Linked DNA regions of Homo sapiens. The protein of the gene in region 2 interacts with the protein of the main gene of each other region in a pairwise test. Each region holds a gene or a part of one and is shown on either strand. Other genes may lie near its edges.

What was found.
Region 1: the proteins of MAGEA12 (region 2) and ABI3 interact in binary tests that used the Homo sapiens proteins (3 or more experiments, as listed by UniProt).
Region 3: the proteins of MAGEA12 (region 2) and KHDC4 interact in binary tests that used the Homo sapiens proteins (3 or more experiments, as listed by UniProt).
Region 4: the proteins of MAGEA12 (region 2) and CLIP4 interact in binary tests that used the Homo sapiens proteins (3 or more experiments, as listed by UniProt).

The regions. Positions count from the first base shown.
Region 1 is NC_000017.11:49,206,152-49,213,706, forward strand, and holds the start of ABI3 (ABI gene family member 3), read left to right. Parts: upstream 1-4,555; 5' UTR 4,556-4,573; coding exon 4,574-4,690; intron 4,691-7,555. Other genes in the region: GNGT2 (guanine nucleotide-binding protein G(I)/G(S)/G(O) subunit gamma-T2), read right to left, coding at 606-731, 1,188-1,271. UniProt on the Homo sapiens protein: May inhibit tumor metastasis. In vitro, reduces cell motility.
Region 2 is NC_000023.11:152,729,446-152,736,802, reverse strand, and holds the start of MAGEA12 (melanoma-associated antigen 12), read right to left. Parts: upstream 3,047-7,357; 5' UTR 2,944-3,046; intron 2,942-2,943; exon of another isoform or gene 2,769-2,941; intron 1,656-2,768; 5' UTR 1,550-1,655; intron 717-1,549; 5' UTR 642-716; coding exon 1-641. Other genes in the region: CSAG1 (chondrosarcoma-associated gene 1 protein), read left to right, coding at 4,343-4,358. UniProt on the Homo sapiens protein: Not known, though may play a role tumor transformation or progression. In vitro promotes cell viability in melanoma cell lines.
Region 3 is NC_000001.11:155,924,414-155,931,413, reverse strand, and holds part of KHDC4 (KH homology domain-containing protein 4), read left to right. Parts: intron 1-1,573; coding exon 1,574-1,702; intron 1,703-2,038; coding exon 2,039-2,118; intron 2,119-4,257; coding exon 4,258-4,310; intron 4,311-4,574; coding exon 4,575-4,738; intron 4,739-5,327; exon of another isoform or gene 5,328-5,456; intron 5,457-5,570; coding exon 5,571-5,782; intron 5,783-7,000.
Region 4 is NC_000002.12:29,111,092-29,118,439, reverse strand, and holds the start of CLIP4 (CAP-Gly domain-containing linker protein 4), read right to left. Parts: upstream 3,026-7,348; 5' UTR 2,775-3,025; intron 285-2,774; exon of another isoform or gene 79-284; intron 1-78.

The DNA.
Region 1 (7,555 bases), on a different chromosome or scaffold from region 2:
AGCCATGTTCGTCTTGCACACTCTTCCATCCATAGTGCCCAGCACTAACAGACTACTTGACAATATTAAAGAAATCATGAAATCATAACTTCACAAACTCTTGTTGTCATCAGGCCATCTGGGGTGATCTAAATGACTAGGAACAGGACCATAGGGTAGGACATGATATGGAGGGACAGGACCACCCAACCCTGGCCCCCAGCCCAAACTACTCTGGCGTGGAAATGCTTTATTCCTAGGATGAGAGTAGAGGGAAAAGACGGAGGGGTTCCCAGGTGGTGTAAGTGCTTCCTAAGGACTGCCCTCTGGGGTCTTGGGGTATTGCAGGCTTCTCACACCCCACCACCCATGGGGCCAACCGCTCGGCCAGCCACACTGTCCTCAGAGTGTTCCCAGCAAGGTCAGCAGAGACCCAGCAGGTGGAGGAAATAATGGGAGAAAAGAGTTGAAGGTGGGAGTGGGGAATGGGTTCACAATGCATTTGTTCAGGGATCTTTACTCATTCTGTGATGAAGAGAAGGTGACAGTTCACTGGCTCCCTGGGGGTCTAGGAGACTTGGGCTTGGCTGAAGAGGGACAGACACTCAGGGCAGGGCTCCATGCCATCAGCTTATCAGACAGCCACCTTTCTCCTTGAAGGGATTCTTGTCCTCAGGGATGCCTTTGAGAAAAGGATCGTTTCCTGCTTGGGCCTCCACGTACTCCTTGATTTCCTTTCCCGCTTTGGAAATCTGCGAGAACACAAAAAATGTTTTAGGTCCTTGTTACTGTCTCTGGGTCCATGATTTGGTCAGTGCCAGAAAAACAGGCTTCTGGGCAGGGCAGAGACAGGGGCCAAAGAGGAGAAAGACACAGAGGACAGACAGGTGTTCGGGGGTGTGAGTTCCTTGATCTGACCCACAACACTGACCCTGACCTTCATGGGCTGCTTGGCCAGAGCCAGCCCAGACACAGGGCTGGACACGCTGAGCTCTCCAAGGCCCTGAAGCTCTCTCCTGTGCTCAGGGAGGCTGGCACCTTCACAGGGTCAACCCCAGCCTTTCTCTGCATCCTACCCCATCCCAGAGGTACCTCCTGCTGCTTCTGCAGCCCTGGAACAGTCCCACCACCCTTTCTGGTCACTTCCTCCTTCCCGGGGCTCATCAGGAACAGGAAGGGAAGAGCAGGGACGGGGCGAGGAGGCTCACCGGAATTCTTGTGTTTTTCACTTCTTTCTTCAGCTGCTCCACCTCCATCTTCAACAGGTCCTTCTCGCTGAGATCCTGGGCCATCCTGCCCTAGACAGACCTGATCCTGGAAAGGATTCAGCAGCCAGGATCATAAATCTCATCAGCTCTTCCAGCTCCCTCCACACCTCGACTTCTAGCATCTTCCCTGCCATATCCCTCAGTTCAGGCCCCTCATCATTCAACAGATATTCACTCCATCCTTGCATGCCCTGCTTCTTCAAGAGTCTGGGCTCAGGAGGGGAGGAAGCTCCCAGTCTGATGGGGGAGGCACCATTTTTGCCTTTGGATTGTCTGTCTATGGAGGAAATTTGGATTGTCTGTCTATAGAGGCATCTGTCTGTCTGTCTACAGAGGAAACAGAGAAGAAAGAAAAAGGAGTTTCTTTCAGAGAGGAAGATCTGGGAAGCAACGTTATTGTTTCATATAGTGACTCAGAGTTTTCCTCTTTCTCTCCAGGTCCAGCAAGGGAGAGTATACAATAATGGTCAAGAGAAGGGGGTCTTGGCTGGGCGCGGTGGCTCACCCCTATAATCCCAGCACTTTGGGAGGCCAAAGTGGGAGGATCGCTTGAGCCCAGGAGTTCAAGATCAGCCTGGCCAACATGGCGAAACCTCGTCTCTACAAAAGATAGAAAAATTAGCCGGGGTGATGGTGAGTGCCTATAATCCCAGCTACTCGGGAGGCTGAGATATGAGAATTGCTTGAACCTGGGAGGCGAAGGTTGCAGTGAGCTGAGATCATGCCACTGCACTCCAGCCTGGGTAACAGAGAACAACTGTTTCAAAAAATAAAAAAAGATCCCAGGCACTGTGGCTCATGCCTGTAATCCCAGCACTTTGGGAGGCTGAGACAGGCAGATCACCTGAGGTTGAGGGTTCGAGACTAGCCTCGCCAACATGGTGAAACCCCATCTCTACTAAAAATACAAAAATTAGGCAGGCGTGGTGGCGGGCACCTGTAATCCCAGCTACTCAGCGGGCTGAGGCAGGAGAATCACTTGAACCCAGAAGACGGAGGTTGCAGTGAGCCGAGATCACACCACTGCACTCCAGCTTAGGCGACAAGAGTGAGACTCCATCTCAAAAAAAAAAAAAAGAGAGAGAGAGAGACAAGGGGGTCTGGAGCTTACCAGACTCCAACTCTGATCTGCTGCTTCCTTACTGCTTTCTCAGTGTGGCCTTAGGGAAGTCACTCAACCTCTTTGAGTATTAGTTTCCCCAGCTGCAAATGGGTATTAAAAAAACCTACCACATGCAATTATTGTGGGTACTAAGAAAATAATGTCTATAAAATATTATAATATACTACCTGGCACATAATGAACACTTAATACACTTATTATTATCACTAATAATGCTATTGTTATTATTATCACTGCAGGGTTATCAGGAAGGCCTTCCTGGTGCCTAGCCCCAGTGATACTAAGAGTAGATCCCAGCCCAGTGCAACCTCAGCCCCTCTCACCTGCCACAGAAGAGCACACTCTCCAAGTCACTTGTCCTGGACTCAGGTAAGATAGTGTTTGAGCCTCCTAGTTCTTCATCAGCTGAAAATCTTCAGATAAAGCAGATGGCCTGGAAACCAAAATCTCTGATGCCTAAGCTGATCATAGGCTCAAAGTTCTAAGCCCATCACCCGCTTGAGCCTTCAAGCCCTCACTACAGCAGAGCAGAGAGACAGACATTCTCCCCACAAAAACAAACGCGAAAACAGAAGCCACCTTTTCACCACCTTGCCTTGCGTTAGCCTCACACTTTTGGTGACCTCACTAGCTTAGAGCCCGCAGCGCTTCTATTTCTCCACCTCCACCCTGCAGCCCCACTTACCCCGCTTCGCCTGCTTTCTCCTCCTTCCCTTCCCACCTCTGAGCATGCTCTGAGGCTGTCCTTCCTCCTGAGGCAAGTCCTAGACCGGCCCCTAACCTCCTTAACCAAGATGCTTTGTGTTGCCCATTGGATCCCCACAGTTTCACCTTACGAAGTTCTCCTAGCTCACTCTTCATCCACTCATTCAATAAAAATGTCCTTGCTCACCAAGCTGTGCCACTTAGTACTTGGGGCGTGGCCACCTCTAATGCCTCTGTTCAAGCTTCTTTGCTGCCATGCCTCCCTCTGAGCCCTGAATGTGGGTTCCTGAGCACAGAACCCACATCCTGGTTTTTTTCTTGCTGTCCCCCCAGGACCACCCAAGGGCTATGCCATTTAACAGACATTGAGCTCCTGCTCTGGTTGACACCCATCCAATGACAAGGGACCCGCTGGAGGAGCAAAAGTTAAGGGACCAATATGGTCAATGGGAGGTCCTCTTATTCTCCTGTCTCTAGGATGACAGGCTTGGTGGTGGGAGGGGCAGAGAGGAGGCCCGCCGTCCATCCTAACTTCCGTGCTCCAGGACCCAGTCCAACTCTCAGCTGGGAGCTCTAAGAATTTGAAATCAGAACAGGATCCTGGAGGTTGTCTGGTACAACTGTCCTGTTAATGCGTGAACCACAGCCCATACCTCCTAGGCAGGCTCAGTGCTCTGTCCACCGCTGCTTCCTAAAACCGCAAGTTGATCTGAAATTTGAACCTGGTGCTTCTCAAATCCAAGTCCTTCCTGTTGTCTAATCTGAGTCCCTCACATTACGCTTGGTCAATTTCATCTTGTCCTGCCTTCATCTGCACAGAGCGTGTAGGGCAGATCTTCATCACACACAACCCTTCGCAGGCTTGCTAACACCCCTCTGGCAACCTCTCTGGTCATGTCTTCCCGGTGTCCAACCCTGACCCCTCTTGCTGCCGCATCGGCTGTTTTCTATTTTTGCTGTGCTGCTGCCCCACAGTCCTCTGGTATGACGGATCTCCATATCCTATCCACCCTCCACTCCCCTGTCCCTTGGTGACTCATCCCTGAGCTTCCCAAGGAAGCCCCCACCCTCTGCCCTTTCCTCCCGCCTTCCATGAGTGGAAAATCCACCTCCGCCCCCTATAGCAGGCCAGCCCCCTTCCTCCCCAGTCTCCGACCCCATCCCCCAGCCGACCAGTTTCCTCTCCAGGACCAGGGAGCAATCACAGCTGCCCCGACCTTGGCTTCCTCTGCTGGGTGGGATTGGGGGCTGGGCCCCCAAATGGGCCCCTGGCTTCCCCCTTCCTCTGGGCAGGGGACAGAGAGACACAGGCTCGGGGAGCAGGACTGACTTCCTCTTGTCCCGGAATGAGCATGCCTGCCCTTTGCAAGCAGGTTTGGGTCTCACGCAGAGGAAACCAAAAGCAATAAGAGGGAGGGAAGGCAGAGCAACCAATCAAGGGCAGGGTGAGACTCAAAACGAGCGGGCTCCCTGGGGAGCCAGACAGAGGCTGGGGGTGATGGCGGAGCTACAGCAGCTGCAGGAGTTTGAGATCCCCACTGGCCGGGAGGCTCTGAGGGGCAACCACAGTGCCCTGCTGCGGGTCGCTGACTACTGCGAGGACAACTATGTGCAGGTAGGTAGAGCGGGCGGAAGCCTGACACCCCAGCCCCCGGAGGGGGGACCCTGAGCCCTGCCCCAAGTGGGGCCCTGGGACCCATCCTGACAGTGCTTGTCCTGGGCCTTGGCTGAGAAATCCTCCCATTCCAGGCTTCGGCTTCATCCCAGACCCCAATACTTAACCCTGACCCCATACTACCCAAGCCCCCACTGTGCCCCTTCTGTCTCTCAGAGCCTCAGAGATGCCTGGGACAGACAGTGCGATTCCATCCTGTTCTCAGGTGTCACCTCAGGTTCATCCTTCTGAGTTCCCACGGGTCAATCCAGAGACCCAAAGCCTCCGTCCTCACACAGATGCTGGCGATCATTCTATTTCCAGGCCGGCTCTGGGTGAGGCTTCAGAAGAACTTCCCAAACAGCACAGTGAACCTGAGATGGACAAGGGAAAGGGGCTCTTTCCCTGAGTTTGGGAAAGGGAGAGTGGGGATAAGGCAGAGTAGGCTGGGCTAAAGAGAGGGGATCTCATGCAGAGGCAGGGGGATGGCCCACATAACTGCTGGGAGCAGGCTTCTAGCAACAGATAGGGAGGTGGCATTGTAGAACAGGTTTTAAATTGTGTGGTTGTCCTGGGGCTGAGAACATAGATTCCTGGATTCAGGGAGGAGAGGCAAGGCAACTGAGCCATGATGGAAATCACTTCTGTTATTTCATTAATCTGTACAACTACCTTGTGAGACATGTATTATAATTCCTATTTTACAGATGTGGAAACAGTAGCTCAGGGAGGTGAGGTGACTTGTCTAAGGCCACACAGCTCCAAACAGCAGAGCCAGGCATTCCTTTTTTTTCGCTCTTGTTGTCCAGGCTGGAGTGCAATGGCTCGATCTTGGCTCACTACAACCTCCGCCTTCCGGGTTCAAGAAATTCTCCTGCCTCAGCCTCCTGAGTAGCTGGAATTACAGGCATGCACCACCATGCCCGACTAATTTTATATTTTTAGTAGAGACAGGGTTTCGCCATGTTGGTAAGGCTGGTCTCGAACTCCTGACACCTCAGGTGATCCACCCGCCTTGGCCTCCCAAAGTTCTGGGATTACAGGAGTGAGCCACTGTGCCCAGCCAGCCTTTTTTTTTTTTTGACGGGGTCTCCTCTGTCACCCAGGCTGGAGTGCTGTGGCATGATCATAGCTCACGTAGCTTCACTGAAGCCTTGAACTCCTAGGTTCAAGCAATCCTCCCACCTCAGCCTTCTGAGTAGCTGGGGCTACAGGTGCATGCCACCATGCCTGGCTAATTTTTTAAATTTTTTTGTAAAGACAGGGTCTCCATATGTAGCCCAGGCTGGTCTTGAACTCCTGGCCTCAAGTGATCTGCCCACCTTGGCCTCCCAAAGTGCTGGGATTACAGGCATAAGCCACCACATTTGGGCTTCCCTGAATCCTGATGCCAAGCTCTTTCCTCTCCATCTTTCTGCCTCCCTACACGCTATGTGACTTTACGACAGTTTATTAGCACTCTCTGTCCCCGGTTTCCTCTGCTCCCTGAAGAGCTGCAGACTAACCTTGTTACCCCTTGGGCAAAACTTTATTTTTCTAACCTGTACTAACCAAACTATGAGAACAGGCACAGGGACCTTGTAGCATAGTAAGAATGTTGAAAAAAGAAGTAAATGAGTAACAAGTGCTCATGGGAAATGGCAGATTAAAGACAGTCAGTAATGACAGCAGTTAAAATGCTCTGGACCCTTCTTTTGGGCCAGGCATGTTACCAGCATGGCCTCCCTTCATCCTCATCTGAAGTCCGGTGAGGCGAGTCCCATGCCCACTTCACAGTGAGGAAGCTGAGGTTTGGAAAGGTTAAGTCACTTTCCCAGAAGTCTCCTAGCTAGTGTCAGAGCCTGAATTCAAACGCAGAAATCTGATTCCAGAGCCCACTCCCTATGCCACTAACTGAAAATGCTACTCTGGGTATCATTTCGGTCTGTGTAGATGTTGAGTGACCACCTGCAGATGAGACAGAATGAGGCTTGCAAACCAGCTCATTCTCCTAGCATGGAAAGGCATGTTTCCTCTATGGACAAGGATCCAAGCAGTCCTTTCCATTCCTTCCATAACTTCTGCACACCTCAAAGAGCTTCCACAGGGCTCTCATTTGCACACACAGTGTGCACACACAATTTGGGGTCGCAAAGACCTAAGTCAAATTTCCAGTTCTGCCACCTACCAACTACAGGAACTGTGGCAAGTTTCTCCTCTGATTCTCATGCCTGCCTTCAGTGGTGGCTCCATGGATTCAATATAAAAATGTATCAAAGCATTCAGCCTAGTGCCAGCCCCTTCAGAAGAGCAGGATAAATGGCAGCTCTTACAATGACCATCACTACCATTCATTGGAAGGATGGATAATAAGAATCAGTTCTAGGGAGGAGAAGCTGTCCTTGCAAAAATATGCAGGGCATGAGAAGCCCTGACCCAAGTTGGAATCCTTGGACTCCTGCTTCCTTCGTGCAGAGTACTAACTACTAGAACACACAACTTGTTACCTTTCCTGGCCTTTCTGAGGATCTTTATCTAGGCAAATGCCTAGGAAGGTTCTGGATCTCAGAACTTCTGTTACCTAAGGCCTGATTCCCCTACCCTCCAACCCCACCTGCAGCCCCTCTCTCCCCACACCACCCAGATGCTAGGAAACCCATGGGGAATTAGGGAAGGCAGACCAGGGTCACCTGCAGAGTTCTCAGCCAGGGTTGACTGAGTTTACAGACACGGTAATTTGCATGATGAACAAGCACTCAGCCGCAGAGATGGATCTCAGACACCTGTCCCTGCGGACCTAACTTTGGGCTAAGAGCAAAGCCAGGGGTCGGTAGGTGTTCAGGCTGC
Region 2 (7,357 bases):
TCGCCCTCTTTTGCGATTATGGCCAGGACGATTATCAGGAGGCCTGTCTTGGGCACGATCTGATTGTCGCCCAGCAGGCCATCGTAGGAGAGGCCCAGGCAGGTGACAAGGATGTACAAGTGGCCGATGCGGACCACTTCCACCACCTCGATGCCAAAGACCAGCTGCAAGTACTCGGAGGCTTTGCTGAAGATCACAGGAAAGAAGTCCTGGAAATTTCTGATGACACTCCCCAGCATTTCTGCCTTTGTGAATGGCTCCCTGGCTCGATACTTGAGGAGCAGAAAATGAACCAACTCAGCCATCTTCCTACTGAGTGCTACTTGGAAGCTCGTCTCCAGGTCAGGAAAGGTGCTTGGCCCTTCCTGTTCTTCGTTGCTGGAGCCCTCATCGGATTGACTCCAGAGAGTATAGTTGATGGTAGTGGGGAGGGTGGAGGCTCCCTGAGGACTGTGGGGAGGACTTGGTGACTCGGCAGCAGGCACCTCCCGCAGGGTGACTTCCACTAGAGTAGAGGAGGAGGAGGCAGTCTCCTGCTCCTCAGTAGCAGGAGCCTGCGCACCCACCAAGCCCAGGGCCTCTCCTTGGGCCTCAAGGCCTTCCTCAGGCTTGCAGTGCTGACTCCTCTGCTCAAGTGGCATGATGACTCTGGTCAGGGCAGCAGGTAGGAGTGTGGGCAGGAGCTAGTGCTGCTCCGGGGCCTGTCTCCTCAGAACCTGAAGGAACAAGTGAGAGGGCGCCTCAGGGTACAGCCGGCCAGCACATGCTGAGGCTGAAGGAATGACAGTAGGGAGGGTGAGGCCAGGCGCTCTGGAGTCCCATGTGTTCTGGGGCCGGTGCGGCCCTTGGTGTGCATTCAAGGCAAACCTTCAGTGTTGGCACTGTCTGCACCCCCTCTGCTCTGTGACCTCAGGACACTGCCTCAGACCAAGGCCTCACTGCCTTGTTCTTGGAACTCCTGATTCCTGGGAGAGGAATCCATGGGCCTCAGGGTGCAGACTGCAAGTACAGCCACAGATTCCCAAAATTGTCAGGAGGGTCGGCCAGACTCTGTGAGGTCCCCACTCTACTGGGGTGGAGGGTCCCTTCTGTGCTCACTCAGGGCCCTCACCTTTCTCCTTGCAGGGCCTAATACCGCCCTTTTGCTGGCCAAAGAAACTCTCATGGCAAGAATTCACATCCCTGATACGGTACAGAAGGACATGAGGGGACCAACATCTGGCCATACATAACCAGATCCTCCCACAAAGGACAATGAGAGATGTCCAAATTCATTGGAGTCCAGGTGTCCTGGGTGACGAGCCTGCTTGGTCCTCACCACTACTCCTGCTAGGGCCTGAGAGCCTCCCTCTACTGACCTGAGTGCAGCCCCTTCAGACCAAGGCCTCCCTTTCCCTGACATCAAAGATCCCAGGATAATGGAGGGACCTCAGCAGGTAGCCTTGCCCAGGCTCTCTGAGGGAATAGCAGGGGCAGGGCAGATTTCTGTGGGGCCCTCTGTCAGCGTTCTGGCCCAGGGGTACCCTCAATCCTACCTCAGGCTTCTCACCTGGATGCTTGGTAGATCTTAGGACCACTGTGTCTGTCGACTACATGGGGGCCCCTGTGTTGACCTGAGTCACCCTCTGAAGAAAAGGTCCTCAACTCCCTGAGATCTGGAAACAGAAGTGAGGAGGAGCCACATCCTGTCACTCCCAGGTAGGTTGTCCAGGGCTGACCCCTTTGGTTCTAGGGTGAGGCTTCTGATGGCCTCCTGTGGGTTACTCATCTTTACTCCTGCCAGGGACTGCCCTTCCTCAACCCCCAACCCCCTGAAATGAGCAGACAGCTCCTCTTTACACCAACACCTTATCTCCCTGAGGGTTCCCCAACCTCTTGCCTGTGGTACAAATGACATTGCCAATTGGAGCTATCTCTGATCGGGTTCCCTTAGAGCTAAGAATAAGGGACAGCCAGACTCTGTGGCATCCCTTCTTTCTGGGCCGGGGGTATCCCCAGTCCTCATGAAGGGGGCACACCTTGGGTCCGGCAGATCCTGGGATTCCTCCCTCTGCTGACCTGAAGTGCCACTCCTCAGACCACAGCCCGCAAATCTGTCACCCTGAAGTCGCAATGAGCATGGGGCACATTAGGCCACTGTGCCCAGGATCCCCCAGCCCAAGGTTGCCACTGATCTGGACTCCAAGGTCCCCTCAGTCCTCCCTCTTCTTCCTCCCCTTGACTCCTCGCAGGGCTGGGCTCCAACTCCCTGCTGAAGTGGGTCTGTATCCCTAGGATTCCCGCGGCCGAATGAAAAGGTGGCTCAGTTTGAGACAGGGGTACTTTGGGCCCCTGTCCTGGCATGCTGGGAGCCCTCCGGACTCCATTATCTTCCAGGAGGGGCTTGGGCCCATCCTCTGCTTCCCAAAGGCCGTACTCACGATACCGACCCCCTTCCCTCCCTGAGCCACAGATGTGAACGTCAGGATCCGCGTGCTTGGCCGCCATTCCCGGAGCTTCCGTGGGTTGATTGCAGGGGCAAAGCTCCGATTCTGCCAGGATGGGTGGGGATGGGAATCGGGGTTTGGGGGTCCCGTTGATGTTTGAGCGATGGTGGTGGGTTTGGTGTTGGGGGATGGGGGTGGGGTTGGTGTTGGGGGATGGGAATGGTGGTGGGGGTGCGGGGGGTTACCCTCAGTCCCCTCTTGGGGTCCTGACCTTGATTCCTGGCTGAGTCTGGGCCCTGAGCACTTCTAACCAGCCCTGCCCTGGTCACACAAAGCTCTTACACCAGAGTTCCCTGCGGTTAAAGCGGCGGGGGGTGGCGGGGTGAGGTGGTGGCGACTCAGCCTGAGAAGTCTTCCCCTGCAGGGTGGTCCAGGCCCGGCAGCAGAGGCAGCGCTGGATTATTGGGGGCCCTCTGTCTGGGGTGAGGCCCGCCTCAGTCCTCCCTCGGCATCTTACCTTGCCTCCTCACGGAGCCTGCGCCTGCTTCCCTCCACCGACGTCAGGCCGTTGCTCAGGGCGAGAATCTCGCTGTTCTCTGACCTCCAACGCGCAAGTCAGTGGCGTCACATCCGGCCCCGTGACTTCCCTGGGTTCACAGCAGGGGTGGAACTGGATTCTTCCTGGATGGGGATCCAGATGGAGGTGGAGGTAAGCATGAAGATGGTGTTGGGGGTAGGGGTAGGGATAGGGACGGGGATCCTGAGGCTGTAGATCCTGGTGGGGTTGGGGGAGTTGGGGGTGGGAGGGGCCTTTGGTCATCCCTCAAGGTCCTGACTTGGATGCCAGGCTGAGCCTGGACCGCCATCCTCTGCCGATTGTGTCTGCTCCCCTCAGACCAAGTCTCTGACTCTGAGTCCCCCTGAAGTGGCACTGGGGGAGGGGTGTGGTCGGGGTGACATTATTGCCTAAGTTTACCAGGGCTGACAAGAGGGACTGAGCTGGATTCTGTGGTCCCACTACGTGGGGGAGGGTGGACCCTCAGTCCTCACTCAAGAGGGTCCTCTTCCTCACTCCTGGCTGTTGGATGAAGTGATTGGCAGGAGATACTCTGTTTCTGTAACGTCTGTGCATTTGCACAGCTGCACCCCTTGTAGAGAATGGCTGCGGGTCCCAGGCCAGGAGCTCCCTGCAGGGCGGGAGCTCCCACGATCGTATTGACCTCTGGAAGAAGACAGACACTTTCCCACGGGAGCTCCTCTCCAGCCAGAGCTACACTTGGCAAACCTTTGGTCCTAAATGATTTATTCACTGAATTGAAGAAATACGGTTTACATATCTTCCAAGTATATATGTAGGTAGCGATATATATATTTATTTCTACGAACTAACACCTACCCTTAGTATGCATCGTTCACTCTTACTATCCTAATCTACTTCTATTCCAGTCTTTGTGTTCTGTTGAAGGAATTTTTTTTTAAACGTAATTCCTCTCCCACTATGTTGGTTTCAGGTTGTTATTAGCAGAACTCTGGAGCCATGCTGCCTTAACAAACCCAATTTTCCTGGTGTCCTGCTATTACCTAGGGCTCTTGGCATCGTGTTTTCAGGAGCTGCCTCAGATTGTGCAATGAAGTGAAGTGGAAATTTTAAAACTTTTATTCTACCCATTCTGTTATCTGCCGTCTAGGCAGGCTACAAACCTCCCCAACATCCCTGCCGCTAACCCCCTCTAACCGACACGGCAAGTGTCACACACAAGTACCAGCTCAACAAGGTCTTCAGTCTCACCCTGGACTGGCCCTGTTTTGTTGTGTAGATTTTCTTGCTAATACTGGTTTTTTACTTTCTGTTTCCATTCTATAAATTTACAGGGTTGATTTGGGAAGCAGAGCACAGCAGCCCAAATTTGCTTGTAATGTCGGCGACTACAGGTAAGGCACTAAATTGTAAATAATTTAAGCTGAGTTTACATTTTTACACTGTTGTGTTCCCCATGAATGAATATGTTATACTCCTCTATGTATGTCAAGCTATTTTTTCCTGAATATGTCAGTATACTTCGATAGTTGCCTCTATAAGCAGCTTATACATTTTTATTAGACTTCTATTCAGGTAATTCTTGGATTTTATTGCTATTGCAAATGGCATATTGTCTATTAATTGCTGTAGTTAGTTATTGCTTTCGTGAGGTGAAGATTTTGATTTTGCTGTAGTAATCTGTTGCACACCTCATTCTGAAGGCCGATGCACTTGAATATTCCACATGCCTTTTCCTTTGAATTTTCAAGATCGATAATGGTATTATCACTAAACATTACATGTTTTTCCAATATTCATACCACTTACTCATTTTGATACTTATAGCTTTTTGTGTCTCAATCCTGATTTCAAACGTAGAGATAATAGGCTACATCTACTTCTCGTTCCTGACTGGAATGATAGTTCTTCGAACATTTGACATTTAAGTATGTTTGCTGTTGATTTTAGGAAATGGAAGTGCTCTTTGAATATAGGTTAAATAAATATTTTCTTTTTTCCATAAACTCATTAAATGTCTTTAAAAAGCTTTTTCTGTACCCTTTGACAGGATCAAATTTTTTCTCCTCCATTTTGTATGTAAGGAATTACAATGAAACCGTTTTTTTTTTTCTGATGTTAAATCATATGTTATTTCCTTGGGCAGAGCCTGTCTATTTGTTTAATATGCTACTAATTTAGGTAAGGTATTTACTGCTAGGTAAGGGAGCTTACTTGGTGTGTTCTTTTTCCATCGGGGAGGGATGTGGTCCTCATCTGATTTTGAATCCAGGAGGGCTAGTCTGGGAGAATGAACTGAACAATTGTCAATCTTTTGTATGTTTTGGAAGAGTTGATATAAGATGGTGGTTAGTTTTCCCTGATCATTTGGTAGAATTGGCCTCCAAAACTGCCTAACCTGGAATGTTTGAGGGTGGCTTGAGCTTTGAATATTGTACAGTTTCAGTTTGTATAGTTTAATTAAAGTTTTCTTTTTCTTTTTGGATCAGTTTGGTTACTGATGTATTTTATTTCTATGAAGTGGTCAGTTTCATTTAGGATTTCACTTTTAATGGCATATTTGTGATAAAAAACGTTTTATTAGGGAAAGCCTTCACACATACAGAATAACAGAAACTAATATTATGAACCCAGGATACTTGATACCGAGCATGAACAACTTTAAATACACAGCAAAGCTGGTTCCAGTTAGACACTTGCCTACCTGCATATGAGCTTCTGTAATAACGTGGAGCCAATCTAAGGCATTAGACCATTTCATCTCTAAACAATTTAACATGCATTTTAAAGGAAAAGGACTTTTTATTAAACAAAAACCCAATAGCATTGATATCTAAAAAATTAAATAAATGATTATCAAATGTTCAACTATTTTACAAACTTATCTGGAAGACATATACTTTATAAAATATATATTTCTTTGATGAAGTACCCAAATATGATAACTTTCCCCCCACTTGCTTCACTGTGGTGGTTTCATACATCTATAATACAGCTAGGTTTCTGTGTGTGTAACATTTTACATTCTGTTCTGTGATTCTCCAACCTCTTAAGTTACTTTTAGACGTTACATACATTAAGCTTCACTCTTTGTGCTGTAAAGATCTATGGGTTTTGACAAATGCCTCTTGCCATTGTCTTAGTCCGTTTGGGCTTCCATAACAAAAATAGTGTAGACTAGGTGGCTTATAAACAACACAACTTTATTTCTCACATTCTGGAGGTTGGAAAGTCCAAGATCAAGGTGCTGGCAGATTTCATGTCTGGTGGAGTCCTGCTCCCTAGTTCCTAGACACCTGCCTTTTCCCTATGTCCTCGCATGGAGGAAGGGGCAAGGGATCTCTGTGGGGACTATTTTATAAAAACACTGATCCCATTCATGAGGTCTCTGCTCTCATGAACTAGTCATTCTCCAAATACCCCACCTTCTACCTAATACCATCACCTTGGTATTTCAGCAGATGAAGTTTGTGGGAACACAAATATTCAGATGAAAGCAAGCACGGAACCACCATTACAGTATTACCATACTAGTTTCACTGCCCTGATAAATCCCCTGTGCTTGTCAGATAACCCCCTTGGCTGCCACTGATAGGTTTTTCATCTTTATAATTTTGCCTTTTCCTGAATGTCATATAAATAGACTCGTATACTATGTAGCCTTTTTAGACTCGTTTCTTTCTAGACTCGTTTCTTTAGACTCGTTTAGCATAATGAACTGAAGAGTCATGTAAAACTTTGTGCAGCTTGTAACTTATTCCTTTTCATTGAGGAGTAGTAGTATCATTGGGTGTACCATATTTTAATGCGTGTGTGTGTGTATGTGTGTATATATATATATATATAATCCATTCACCAAATGAAATACATTTTGGATGCTGCTATTTTTGGTGATTGTGAAATAAGCTATTGTATACATTCATATACAAATTTTTATGTAGACATAAGTTTTCAAATCAATTGGGTAAATTGATTGAGTATGGCTGCTGAATCTTACGCTAAGTCTATGTTCCGTTTTTTAAGAAAACGCCAAATTGTCTTCCAAAGTGGCTGTGCCATGTTGCATTTCCACGAGCTATGAATGAGAGTTTCTGTTGCTCCACATCTTCCCTGGCAATTGGTCTTGGTTTTGTTTGCTTTGTTTTGCTTTTTTATGGATTTTGGACATACTAATAGGTGTGTAGTGGTATCTCATTTTAGTACACAATTATCTAATGACAAAACACGCTTAGTACATTTATTATGCTTATTTGCCATGTGTGTATCTTCTTTTGTGTAGTGTGTGTTCAGATCTTTGACTATTTTCATTTTTTTCTATCGCTGAGCTTTAAGAATTCGCATATATTGTAGAGACAAGTTCTTTATCACATATGTGTACCGCAGATGTTTTCTG
Region 3 (7,000 bases), on a different chromosome or scaffold from region 2:
CATGTTGCCCACCCTGCTTCAGCCTCCCAAAGTGCTGGGATTACAGGCATGAGCCTGTTTGGTTCCTTCGTTCATTCTTTCTTTCTTTCTTTCTGTCTTTCTGTCTTTTTTTTTTTTTTTTTTGGTGATAGAGTCTTGCTTTGTTGCCCAGGCTGGAGTTCAGTGGCACAATCACTGCTTTCTGCTGCCTCAGCCTGCTGAGTAGCTGAGACTACAGTCTCATGCCACCGTGCCCAGCTAATGTTTTGTATTTTTTTAGAGATGTGGTTTTGCCATGTTACCCAGGCTGGTCTGAAACTCTTGGGCTCAAGCGATCCACCCTCCTCAGCCTCCTAAAGTGCTAGGATTACAGATGTGAGCCACCGGTCCCAGCCTTTTTTTGTAATTTATATATTTATTTTTGAGACAGAGTTTTGCTCTTGTTGCCCAGGCTGGAGTGCGATGGCGTGATCTCGGCTCATTGCAACCTCTGCCTCCCGGCTTCAAGCAATTCTGCCTGAGCCTCCGGAGTAGCTGGGATTACAGGCACGAACCACCACACCTGGCTAATTTTGTATGTTTACTAGAGACGGGGTTTCACCATGTTGACCAGGCTGATCACAAACTCCATGTAGTTTAAATTGAAAGAAACCGGATCAGGTTTTACCATCTTACTGTTTTTTCATTCTTCTTTGTTCTGCTGTAATAGAGTGAGGAATTATTAGTTAGATACAATTTAAGGGTTTTTGAGAGCTTTACAAGGATGGAGTTAGTTGGATTTTATGTTAGGATTATAGGAGTGGCACAAAGACAACTTCCTATTGTATGCATGAGGTATATGTATTGTAGGCATTGCTCCTCTACCTTCTATTGTGTTTTACTCCATGTACAGCCAACTAACTGAGCTATAGAGTATCATAACTTGGCCCTTTAATTTTCTTTTTGAAGGTTGTAGCTTCTAGTCCCTAGAGCTTCTGTAATTAGGTGGTCATAAAAATGCACATAGGGCCAAGGTCACAGAGAAATCTTGATTGTGGCCTTCAAGCAGATTGACTTTATTATTGACTTTATTTAATGTCATTTTAGTGAGATTTTTGTTTGCTTGTTAATTCGTTTATGAAGAATGACCAACTGTGTTTACAGGCAGATGAAGGGAAGGGTAGGGAGGTGTGGGACTTGGGAAAGGATAGTTGTACATTGGATGACTAAAAGGCTTTATCTCAGCTGGGCACAGTGGCTCACGCCTGTAATCCCAGCACTTTGGGAGGCCGAGGTAGGTGGATCACCTGAGGTCAGGAGTTCGAGACCAGCCTGGCCAACACGGTGAAACCCCGTCTCTACTAAAAATCCGAAAATTAGCTGGGCATGGTGCTGCACACCTGTAATCCCAGCTACTCAGGAGGCTGAGGCAGGAGAATTGCTTGAACCCAGGAGGCGGAAGTTGCAGTGAGCTGAGATCACGCCACTGCACTCCATCCTGGGCGACAGACTCCATCTCAAAAAAATGAAAAAATAAATAAGTAAATAAATAAAATAAAAAAATAGACTTTATCTCATCATAAAAACTTTTTAATCTAATTTCTCTTTTTTCTAGCTTCAGGCTCCTGGCAAAGGCCTAACTAGCAATAAAAGCAAGGATGACCTGGTGGTAGCTGAAGTAGAAATTAATGATGTGCCTCTCACATGTAGGAACTTGCTGACTCGAGGACAGACTCAAGACGAGGTGAGGAGGCATTGAGACTCTTTGGGGAGGGCGGTGAGTGGATTCAGATAAAGAAGACCTCTAAATAGACAGGCGTCAGATATTTATTAGTGGGTTTGGGTCATAGTCTCTAAAGTCAGGATTGGGTTTAATTTAACTTCAGAGGAAGATAATGGAATGGATATAAATGAATTCTCTGGGTTGGTTTGAGTAAGAAACCATGGAATCAAAATTTCAGATACAGGAGAGAATTCTTTCCTTCTTTACTTGGTTGAATGAATGAATGGGAAGAAAATCTGTCTGCCATTGAAATCAACCAATTGCCACATTTTTTTAATTGAACATTTCCTTTTTTAGATCAGCCGACTTAGTGGGGCTGCAGTATCAACTCGAGGGAGGTTCATGACAACTGAGGAAAAAGCCAAAGTGGGACCAGGGTGCGTATTCTCTTATCTTGTTTATGGAAGGGTTGGGTGTATGACTCACGTTAGCCTCATGTTTTTTATCCTTAGGTAATACGTGTACACAATATTTGATTCAAGGTTTGAGGGGTATGTGTGTGCACACTATAGCAGAATTCTGGATATCAAACAGATACAAGATGTTGGGACCTGTTTTTGGACTTTTATTTCACATTTAATGTTTTTATTGGAGGAAACAAATTATAGGAAAGTGTAAAAGAAGATACTAACCACTAACATTTAATGTATATACTCTTTTTTCTTCTTTCTGTTCCATATGATCTGCAGAAATAATGTATATACTTTTTTTTTTTTTTTTTGAGATGGAGTCTTGCTCTGTCGCCCAGGCTATAGTGCAGTGGCGTGATCTCGGCTCACTTCAAACTCTGCCTCCTGGGTTCATGCCATTCTCCTACCTCAGCCTCCCGAGTAGCTGGGACTACAGGCACCTGCCACCACGCCTGGCTAATTTTTTGTATTTTTAGTAGAGACAGAGCTTCACCGTGTTAGCCAGGATGGTCTTGATCTCCTGACCTTGTGATCCACCCCCCTCGGCCTCCCAAAGTGCTGGGATTACAGGCGTGAGCCACCACGCCCGGCATTGTATATACTTCTTAACTTTTTTCTGTGGAAATAGTTCCCCTCACAAATGGGCTCTTTTTTTTTTTTTTTTTTTTTGTCTTTATGATGGTTATAGTTTGTGATTATTCAGGTAAAGACTTAATCTGTTTCATTTTATTCCTTCCATCATTCCGTGTTTGAGTTTCTCTTCACTGTCAGTTGATAGGTACTTAGGGAATGCAACATTTTTAACATTAGCTTAAACTACACAAAATAAGGTGGCAAAATTTAATTCCTACCCCAAGCCAAGAATTTATTTATTTATTTATTTATTAGAGAAGGAGTTTTTGCTCTTGTTGCCCAGGCTGGAGTGCAATGGCGCCATCTCGGCTCACTGCAACCTCTGCCTCCTGGGTTCAAGCAATTCTCTGGCCTCACCCTCCCGAGTAGCTGGGATTACAAGCATGCGCCACCACACCCGGCTAAATTTTGTATTTTTAGTAGAGATGGGGTTTCACGATGTTGGACAGGCTGGTCTCAAAAGTCCTGACCTCGGGTGGTTCCCCTGCCTCGGCCTCCCAAAGTGCTGGGATTACAGGCATGAGCCACCGTGCCCAGCCCCAAGAATGTATTTAAACTTTCTATATGTGTTGATTGCTGTTTTGAACTTTGTCTTTAAAAAGTTATTTTTACCTGCTACTTTTTATTAACTATATATGGTTATTGATCACTTTATTATAATTTAAGTCCTCTTCACATTTAGAATCTAAATTATCAGTTGATGTAGACCTTAAGAGGTTTCTCTATATGCATGATCAATCTTTCCCCATTAATTTTGTGTGTGTGTGTGTGTGTGTGTGTGTGTGTGTGTGTGTGTGGTTTTTTTTTTTTTTTTTTTTTTTTTTTTGGAGACAGAGTCTTGTTCTGTTGCCCCGGCTGGTGTGCAATGGCATGATCTTGGGTCATTGCAACCTCCACCTCCTGGGTTCAAGTGATTCTTGTGCCTCAGCCTCCTGAGTAGCTGGGACTACAGGCGTGCCACCATGCCCGGCTAATTTTTGTAATTTCAGTAGAGATGGGGTTTTGCCATGTTGGCCAGGCTGGTCTCAAACTCTTGGCCTCATGTCATCCACCCACCTCAGCCTCCCAAAGTGCTGGGATTACAGACATGAGCCACAGCACCCAGCTTGCCCCATTGATTTGGATAGACGAGACCACATTTGTTTATAACCTATTAGACAACCAGCAAAAAGGAATTCTGTTCTTAAATATTGGGTTATCTCAATAGACTGGAAAATAATGGTAGTGAATCCATAAGAACAGATTTGATCTGAACTCTGTGGGCCAGTTGACTTTTAAAATCAAGAAGTTTATTTGTTCCCCAGCTGTTAAAGCATGTTCTGAGACATTAGCTAGCAAAAACCCTTCTAATGTATATAGTCCCTTTTGGTTATTTGGAAACTTGAAACATTACAAATTAGATCTGGTGACCCATTTGACTCCTTTTTTGGTTTTGACCACATTGAGATCATCCTTTTTTGTTTCTCTTTATAGGGATCGTCCATTATATCTTCATGTTCAGGGCCAGACACGGGAATTAGTGGACAGTAAGTAATGTTTTTGGCTCACGTAGCACTTTTTGTGAAGAGCAAAGTACAGGGCTCTGTATAGCAAGTTGGCAAAGTGTCCCTGATGGCTGTTCTAACCCTTGTTCATGAACTATACACGAATTTGTATGGGAGTTTAGAGGGATGGAGAGCCACATATTTGGGTAACGTATAAAGCAGATTTACGGTGAATAATTGAACACTGGCCTGCCTGGGCACTAGTCAGTTCATTCCATTCAGTTTTACTGTCTGTGTTTTTCTAAGGAGCTGTAAACCGGATCAAAGAAATTATCACCAATGGAGTGGTAAAAGCTGCCACAGGAACAAGTCCAACTTTTAATGGTGCAACAGTAACTGTCTATCACCAGCCAGCACCCATCGCTCAGTTGTCTCCAGCTGTTAGCCAGAAGCCTCCCTTCCAGTCAGGGGTATGTTTTGGGGAGGGATCGTTAATAGCATTATCATTTCTATAAAAATGATATGTGCTGGCCAGGCACAGTGGCTCATTCCTGTAATCCCAGCACTTTGGGAGGCCAAGGTGGGTGGATCATTTGAGGTCAGGAATTTGGACCAGCCTGACCAACGTGGTGAAACCCCGTCACGAACATTACCCGGGCATGGTGGCAGGCACCTGTAACCCCAGCTACTTGGGAGGCTGAGGCAGGAGAATTGCTTGAAGCCGGGAGGTGGAGGTTGCAGGGAGCTGAGACCATGCCACTGCACTCCAGCCTGGGCCACAGAGCAAGACTCCATCTCAAAAAAAAAAAAAAAAAAAAAAGTGCCAAGTAATACATACAAAGAAAAAAAAATCGTGAAATTCCAAATTCCAATCCCGAAAGTTACCTGCCATAGGTATTCTGTTTGTGTGTTATCCAGCTCTCCACGGTATAATGAACACCTGATCACACATTTCTTCATATTGATATATTCTAGAAAGGAGATTGATAGAGCAGAAGGTATACATGTTGTACATTTTGAAGTTAGTGGTTTTAATTTGTATTTGTAAACTTGATGACAACTGGAGGACTAAGAAGGCTGAGTCTGATGAAGTAAGACTTTGCTGATACATTCCTCCTAGAAAAAAGGGTTGGAGAGAGCAGCCTTCACTGAAGAGTATCACAGGGCTGACTGTACTACCCAACACTCTACCCCAGTTTTACAGGAGACTGTCTTTGCTATAATTTCTTATTGACTTATTTCAAAGATTGAGGATTTAATTATATATTCTGTTTAATCTGAAGTATTCTGTTCTTCCTACAGATGCATTATGTTCAAGATAAATTATTTGTGGGTCTAGAACATGCTGTACCCACTTTTAATGTCAAGGAGAAGGTGGAAGGTCCAGGCTGCTCCTATTTGCAGCACATTCAGATTGAAACAGGTGCCAAAGTCTTCCTGCGGGGCAAAGGTTCAGGCTGCATTGAGCCAGCATCTGGCCGAGAAGCTTTTGAACCTATGTATATTTACATCAGGTATGGATGGATAGGGCAGGGGACATGTGAATTCTTGTCAACTTGTTGGTACAGTCAGGAGTGATTCAGAAGGAGCAAGAGAAAACTGGGTGTAATTAATAGTAATGAGGGATTTAGATAAATGCTAGGAGTAATTACTTTATAATTAGTTAAAGAAATTGTAGAATTGGGGCACGGTGGCTCATGCCTGTAATCCCAACACTTCTGGAGGCCAAGGCGTAGGACCACTTGAGCCCAGGAGTTTGAGGCCAGCCTGGGCAACATAGCAAAACCCCATCTCTCCAAAAAAATTTTAAAAATTAGGCGGGCACGGTGGCTCACACCTGTAATCCCAGCACTTTGGGAGGCCGAGGCGGGTGGATCACGAGGTCAGGAGATCGAGACCATCCTGGCTAACAAGGTGAAACCCCGTCTCTACTAAAAATAAAACAAAAAAAATTAGCCGGGTGTGGTGGCAGGCGCCTGTAGTCCCAGCTACTCAGGAGGCTGAGGCAGGAGAATGGCGTGAACCCGGGAGGTGGAGCTTGCAGTGAGCTGAGATTGCGCCACTGCACTCCAGCCTGGGTGACAGAGCGAGACTCCATCTCAAAAAAAAAAAAAAATTAGCCAGGTGTTATGGTGTACACCTTAATCCCAGCTGCTCAGTAGGCTGAGGCAGGAGGATGGCTTGAGCCCAGGAGATTAAGGCTGCAGGTAGCTGTGTTTGCACCACTGCACTCCAGACTGGGTGACTGAGTGAGACCCTGTCTTAAAAAAAAAACCAGGTGCGGTGGCTCACACCTGTAATCCCAGCACTTTGGGAGGCCGAGGCAGGCGGATCACTTGAGGTCAGGAGTTCGAGACTACCCTGGCCAACATGGTGAAACCCTGACTCTCCTAAAAGTATAAAAATTAGCCAGGTGTGGTGGCAGGCACCTATAATCCCAGCTATTCAGCAGGCTGAGGTAGGAGAATTGCTTGAACCCTGGAGGCGGAGGTTGCAGTGAGCTGAGACTGCTCCATTGCACTCCAGCCTGGGCAACAGAGCAAGACTCCATCTCAAAAAAAAAAAAAAAAAGAGAAATTATTGAATTAGGAGACGGAATTATCTCTTTAGTATTCAAGTCCTTTGGTTTTGTACAAGTCTGTACAAAAGTGAATCTTGGCCTGTAATCCCAGCACTTTCAGGGCCGAGGCGGATGAATCAGGTCAGGAGATTGAGACCATCCTGGCTAATAC
Region 4 (7,348 bases), on a different chromosome or scaffold from region 2:
TTCTATAGGAATTTCACCCTACTCATCACTCCAAGTTAGCTGTTAGCAAAAGCATCTTACATAACGTGGCTCAAATACCTTGTGATTTTTTTTCCAAGACTCCTTGGTCCATGCTTTAACACAGAGCAGTAATAAATGGGGATGTCCACTAGCATCTTCAGGCTGGTTCAGGACTGTCTGGACCCCATAAAAGGGCCTTACTGAAGCCAGGAGACTTCAGATTTGAGATATGGTTCAAGAGTGTCCTTGAGTTATTCAACTAATAGGAGACCAAAGCTGTGTCTACATTAGCTGGAATCATGAGGCCCTTTCATTCAATTTCCTGTAATACTTTGTTATGAGTCATCATTCTCCTGAGATTCCAATCTCACCACGTAAGTATTTAAAGCATAACTCCAATGATCCTTTTATTTGCTACCTACATAACATCTGTACAATCTACTAAACAGGTATTTACAGTACTGAACACTTAGTTGGCCTTAGAGAGAATTAAAAATTGAAATACCTGCCCTGAAAAAGCTATTTATGCATTTAACAAATATTTATTCAGTTTTTCTTACTAAGTTCTAAGCTATGCAAAGGTAAAGAAACCAGATCTGTCCTTGCCCTCATATAAATTACAGCCTAGTGTTGATTCCTACCAGAAAGTTGAAAGTAGTAAGTGCTATGACCAAGGACAGCTGAGTCCTATGAAAGCACAGATTCAAGAGGGTCAACGAAGGCTTCCTGGAGACTAATAAGTTAAAGCTGTGGCATCTGACCAGCTAACTACTAGCCACATGTGACTATTTAAATTAATTTAAAAATTGGCCAGGTGCAGTGGCTCATGCCTGTAATCCCAACACTTCGGGAGGCCGAGATGGGCAGATCACTTCAGGTCAGGAGTTCGAGACCACCCTGGCCAATATGGTGAAACCCCACAGCAAAAATTAACAGGGTGTGGTAGCAGGCGCCTGTAATCCCAGCTGCTCGAGAGGCTCAGGCAGAACAATCGCTTGAACCTGGGAGGCAGAGATTGCAGTGAGGAGAGATCAGGCCACTGCACTGCAGCCTGGGTGACAGAGCAGAGCGAGACTCCGTCTCAAAAAAAAAAAACAAAAACAAAAAAAAGAGAGAGAGAAAAGGAAAAGAAAAAAAATATTAAAATTTCAGTGCTTCCACTGCTCTAGCCCCATTCAAGTGGTCAAAAGCTATATGTGGCTAGTGCTACCATATTGGGTAATGCAAAAAGAACATGTTTCTGGTCTCCGAAAGCTCTTCTAAACAGCACTGAAGGAAAACAGTGCAGCTCACTCTCCAGATGAGAAAACAATATACAAATGCCTGAAACAAGACACAAATAAAGGTTAACACACTAAAGCAAGCCTATAGCTCCATAGTTCATTATAAATAATTAACAAGGGAGCAGTAAGCCTAAAAGTAACCAGAGTTTGAGGTTTGAACAGGGAGAAAGAGTGAAGTTGATTTTATATAATCTAAAGATCACTAGTTTCAAACACGTGTCAAAATTGGAGTTGTCATAAGCTATGAGAGACAACATAGGTCACTTTTTTAAAAGCCCTTGCTGGTGGGACTGTATGTGGTAAACACAAAATGTCTGAAATGAATCCTACAAATAGAATACCATGGGCTAAATCTTCTACAAAACAGAAGTAAACACATTCCATGCATGGCTAGACTCAATCTTACAGTCCAGATAGACCGTATCAAATGAAAGCATTTAAAAAATGCATCATATTTACGAAAGCAAAATAAGCTGGAACCAGGATGGTTCTCCAACATAAAAACGCAGACCAACTAGACTCCAGCAGGTTCAAGTCTCTGCTTTCCTCCCCAGTTGCTCAATGCCCCGCACCACGTGATCCTGTGCTGTTTAGACGACTCACTTTAAATTGTGCACAAGATTCACAAACAACAAACGTCAAAGTGAAAGTGAAGTACAATTTAAGTGCTGGCGGATGTTCCTGAGGAAGGTGTTTACTGAAACCTTTCAAAGGCGCCCGTTTTATACGATGATGGTGCTACAATATGAACGCAGTCTAGTATCTCAGAACATACAGCAAGTTATTGTCCCATAGGAACATCATCCTCTGATACGTATCAAAACACTGTCTCAGCACAGAGCTGAAAACCAGAGTCTGGATGACGTGAACAGCCTGACATCTAATTCAAAGCTCTACCATCATAAGCAGTGAATGGGATCCTTAAGGATGCGGGCTCAGCTCCAGCGCTCCTTTCAACTTCCCCTCCCAGGTGCGGATGGTTCAGAATTAAGGGATCTCAGGTAGCCAAGGACTGCAAGGACAGCCATTTGGTTTAGCTTTGAAGACCCACTGGCCAAAGGTTTCTCGACAATTTAATGCGCAAGGGGAGTCAAGTGAGAAATGGGAAGAGGCCGCGTTGGAAAGCCACTGCGCGTGCGGGGACTCTCGGGGCAGCCGCGGCTGGCGGTCGTGGCCCAGAGCCCAGCTCCGCCGCCGGGTCCCGCACACCCCGCGCCCCTCAACCTAAAGTTGGGCCGTCCGTCAGCGGCCGCCACGAGGAGTCCCCATCCCCGCCGGGTGGGCCGCTCCGCCCCGAGAAGGCCTCCCCGCGGCCAGCGACACCGGTGCCCACGGGAGGCGGCCGCGGGGCTTCCACAGCCCCCAGCGCCTCTGCGCGACCCTCCCGGGGCCACTGACCTCCCCGCGGGCCCCCAGGGCCGCCCACCCCGGCCCCAACCCCGCCGCCGGCCAGCCCGCGGCCCGGGGGGGCCCCGCGCGCCCCCGGCCCACCTGCCTCCTCCGGGTCCTCTCGGAGCGGCCGGCTGGGGACGCGGGGGCGCGGAGGAAAGGCCGAGAGGCGCGCTCCCGCCGGCGCTGTCTCCCGTGGCCGCCCACGGAGCCTCCCGCCGCGCCGCTCCACACCTCTCCGGGCCCCTCCCGCTGCCTCCCACGCGGGGTGGGCGCGCGCGCAGTGCAGGCGGCCGGGCGGCGCGCAGGCCTCGGCCACGGCCCCGCGCACGCGCTGGGGACTCGGTGGGGACGGAGGAGGCAGCGCGCGCCTGCGCTGGCTCGCCTGGCTCCCGCGCCCCCGCACTCCCCAGCAGTCAGATGATCGGGCGCACGCGGGGCCGCGACCCCGGCTGACAGCGTCTGCGGGGTGTCGCAGTGTTACCTCCCCCGCCGCGAAGCCAGGCGGCCCCGGCACGCCGTGCGTGCCCACCGCCTTCACAGCCCTCAGCCTCGCGGCCTCACGTCTCTAACCTGCGGCGCCCCCACCAGCTGCTGGGGCCGGGGACCTAGTCTTACCCGTCTTGGGCTCCCCAGAGTCCAGCCGAGCGTGGTCAAGAGTACATCCACCAGTTCCCTGCTGGCAGCGCTTGCTGTAAAAGGCCTAATCCGTGCTACACCCACGTTGAGCAATTAGTTCATATCTCCTGCGGCTTTGCTGCCTCTTCACCCACGTTTTCTCCTGACCCCTTCTCCGTCTCCCAAGGACCAGACAGGGTGAAACTGTGCACCTAAAGTCGTGAACTCTGACAGCCTGACTCTCTGTCATCTGGTAACAAGAAAGCGTTACTGGACACATAGTGAGTCCCCTTAATGAGGAGACCTAGTAAGACCATGACCGAAGTTTGAAACATGGAGACAACAGTGTTACATCTATCAGCTGTCTCTGAGGCCTACAGCGGCTGCTTCATAGAGGCTGTACTTCTGTGTTCAGCGCGCACAGTGCCTGGCAGGAACAGATGTTGAATGAACGTCTGTCAGTGTCTCTGCAAGAGCAGAGGTAAGCGCTCACCGCACCCCGGAGCATCTTTTCCTGTTAGAATCATTGATTTCAGGGACTGGAAAAAGCCCCCTTCCCACTTGCCTGAATCCTCCTTACAGTGTCTTCCCACCAAGCAGTGGTTGAACACCTCCACTAACAAGGAACTCATTACCTTTTAAGGCAGCCATTTAATCTTTGATCAGCCTTTTGGAAATTTTCTACCTTAGGAGCTAAAATCCAGCTCCCTGCATCTCTCCCTCACTGGATTTTGTTTCTGCCCTGGGGACTCTTAAGTCTGACTCCAATTCATCCAAGACACACATTACCTGTCCCTTAGGCTACTCCTGATATGACCTGGTCACAATCCCACTCACCAGCATGTTGAGGGATTCTCTTGGATGCATTCCAGCTTGTCCAGAGCTCTCTTAAATGTGATTATCAGGAATGAGTGGGTGGCCTGCCAAGTGCGGAGAGGAAAGAGACTGCCACCTCTTCTTAGGTCCTATGCTTAACAACATTCACCATATCAAAATAGTTGCTAGGAGCAGTCACATCACATTGTTGAATCGGGTGGAGCACACTTGACTAAAACCCACAATATTTGAATACATGACCATCCCTGACCCTGGTCAGCTGCCAGTTTCTCTGTCTCTGCAGGCTCAGCATCTGCGAGTGCTCTCAGAGATAATGTGACACGGATACTTCCTCCTCCCTCTGAAGAGTCCACCTCCCTTTCCCTGCTTTCATCATACCCTCTTCTTGTCTGACCCACCCATCTCTTTAGCTGGTTAAAAGAAGGAAGGCAATCTGCCCTTGGTTGGCTTCAAGCACCTATAAATGAGGCCAATTGTCATTGAACCACAGAAAGTCATAAAGATCTGTGTGTAACAGAGTAGCTATTGGTGAAGTTTCCAAACGTATACAGTTCACTTTTATTGCTGATTTAAATTATCCATCTGAAATACCACTATTAGTAGGTGACAAGGCATGGCTAGCTCAGTTGTTCTTAGTTATAATAAAGATCTCTGTTAGAACCAGCCAGGCCACTGGCTTTATCTGCTACACCCAAACACTGTATGATACATAGGCAAATTCCCAGGATACCAAGCCACCAGAGTCTCCCACTCACTTAGTTGCCTTTGTTCAAAAATCTGACGTTACTTCTTTATACCATCATCAAGAATGCAAGTGCTCGTTGGAGTCATGCTTCCTAGAATACCTCGTGACATACAAGCTTTAGAACCAGGTATTGCCCAGTTAACCAGAGTGAGACTGGACAATGATATGTGGCCAGAACTTGGAACTTGAACTATTCATTGGGGTGGGAAGGCACATGGGGATGTGGACCAACTGTAGCTGCTGAGATTCAATTCTATCTGGAGACACAAAGTTCCTGAAAAGTATAGCAATAATCCACAGCGTCAGGAGGTGATCAACTTACTGGTCAACATCACAGTGTGGAGAAAGGGCATTACTCACTGACCACTGTAAGGCACTTGACCTATGGAAATCTTGTCTTCACTTTACAAATGAAGAAGCAGACTCTGGGAGGCTGCGTGACTTGCTCCATGTAGCCAGGGGCAGAAATAAGATTCAAACCTAAGTCTGTCTGATCTGAAGGCCTATGTTGATTCACTACTTTGCTAACCTACACAGGCTGTCTTTGGGGGCATTAAAGACCCAGAATGGCTGCATAGAGCAGCATTCAGGAATTCAGACACTCGGCAGCAGGAAGATCTGTCAGCAGCTCTCAGGACCCCGACCATGATAAAAGGGTTAGAGGAAATAGCAAAAGAAGACAAGGTCACTGCTTTTACATGGACTGGATATGGGATGGAATATCATCAGTTTCTAATTTGTGAGTGTATAGGGGGCCTAGGCCCTTAGGACCATGAGAGACACCCAACTGTCAGAATTGGGGCACCAGATTGGAGTTCAACTAGCAGAAGTGCTTAAATGCAAAAGATCAGAGCACTGGGCAGAGCCCCTAATATCTTCCTGTCTGTGATGTTTACAGGTGTGATCATCAGCATAAAAAGCCCAACAGAATCAACAAAGTATTAGAAGTAATGTTAGCTCAGCAAGGTTGCCAAGTACAAGATCAGTTTCTAAAAATCAATAGTTTTGTCTACATCAGCAGTAAGCAACTGGGAAATGTAACAGACAATAAGAAACCATTCACAATAACAATAAAGTTTAACAAACTCTAAAGCATAATATCCAGGAATTAACCCAACAACTTGCAAAAACTTTAAGGAGAAAATTTTAAAACTCTATTTAAGGACATAAAATATTGAATAAGTGGAGAGATACAGCATGGATAGGATGACTTTACATTGTAAAAGTATCCATTTAGTCTCCAAAGTAAATGTTATGGCAACCAAAATTCCAGCAGAAACTAAATTTTTAGGGAACTCAACAAACTTACAAAATATATAAGGAGAAATAAATTTTAAACAGTTAAGTCAATTATAAAAACCAGAGCAGACCTGCCATGCCAGATATTATGTCATTGCCACATAGTAATAAAAATATTATGGTACTGGTATAGGAACACATAGAGCAAATAGGAAACAGAATGAAGAACTCAGGAGCAGACCCACGTATAAATGCTACCTCCATTTACACAAAGGTGGTACCACAGATCAATGAGAAAAATATAAATTATTTAGAAGACGGCATTCGGGAAACTGGCTTTAATTTATCAAGGAAAAATAAAGTTGAGAGCCCCATGTTCTGCCATATACAAAGGTGAACTCCAGATAAATGGCAGACCTACATATGATACAAAAGAAAATGCAGGAGACTATCTCTATAATGTGGGTTAGGAATTTACTTCATAAAACAGGTTTGCAAAAGCACAATCCTTGAAGCAAAAAAAAATTGTATGACTTGACTGCATCACAATTAAGGGTTCTGTTCAGTTAAGAATACCATAGAAAAAATTAACAGATGGCTGACAAATTGGAAGAAAACATGTGCTATGTTCAAAAGCAACTAGGGATTAATATCTGAAATGCATGAGGAACTTTTCACAAATCAAAAGGAAGTCAATATAAAATATTTTAAAGGCCAATATAAAAATGAGAAAAGTATAAGAATAGACAATTCACAGAAGGAAAAGCCAGAATGGCAAGCAAGCATTAAAGAGATGCTCAACCCCACTTGTAATCAGAGTGGGAATATAAAGAGTGTGACCCCATAGCCACCAATATGCTGGTCTATGTTTTAAAACCCGCTCCCCAGGGAAGGAAAAGTCCTAACGTACAGTGTTTGCCAATTTCCATGGTGCAAATACTCTGAGCACTGCCAGTTTCCAGCTACCAGTGTAGCTTGAGGTCACTGAACAAGAAGTTGGGAAGAAATGTGCTTTATCAGCTCTCATGAACTGTTTTCAACACACCACTGCTTCACCCACCAGCATGGCAGAAATCAGAAAGATAATCCCAAATATTGGCAAAGATCTGGGGAAAGATGCACTGCTGATGGAAATTTAAACTGGTAAATATATTCTGCAGATCAACCTGGCAGTGCTTAGTGAAAAAAATTAGCAGTATGCTTTATGACTCAGCAGTCACCCTCCTGGATATGCCTC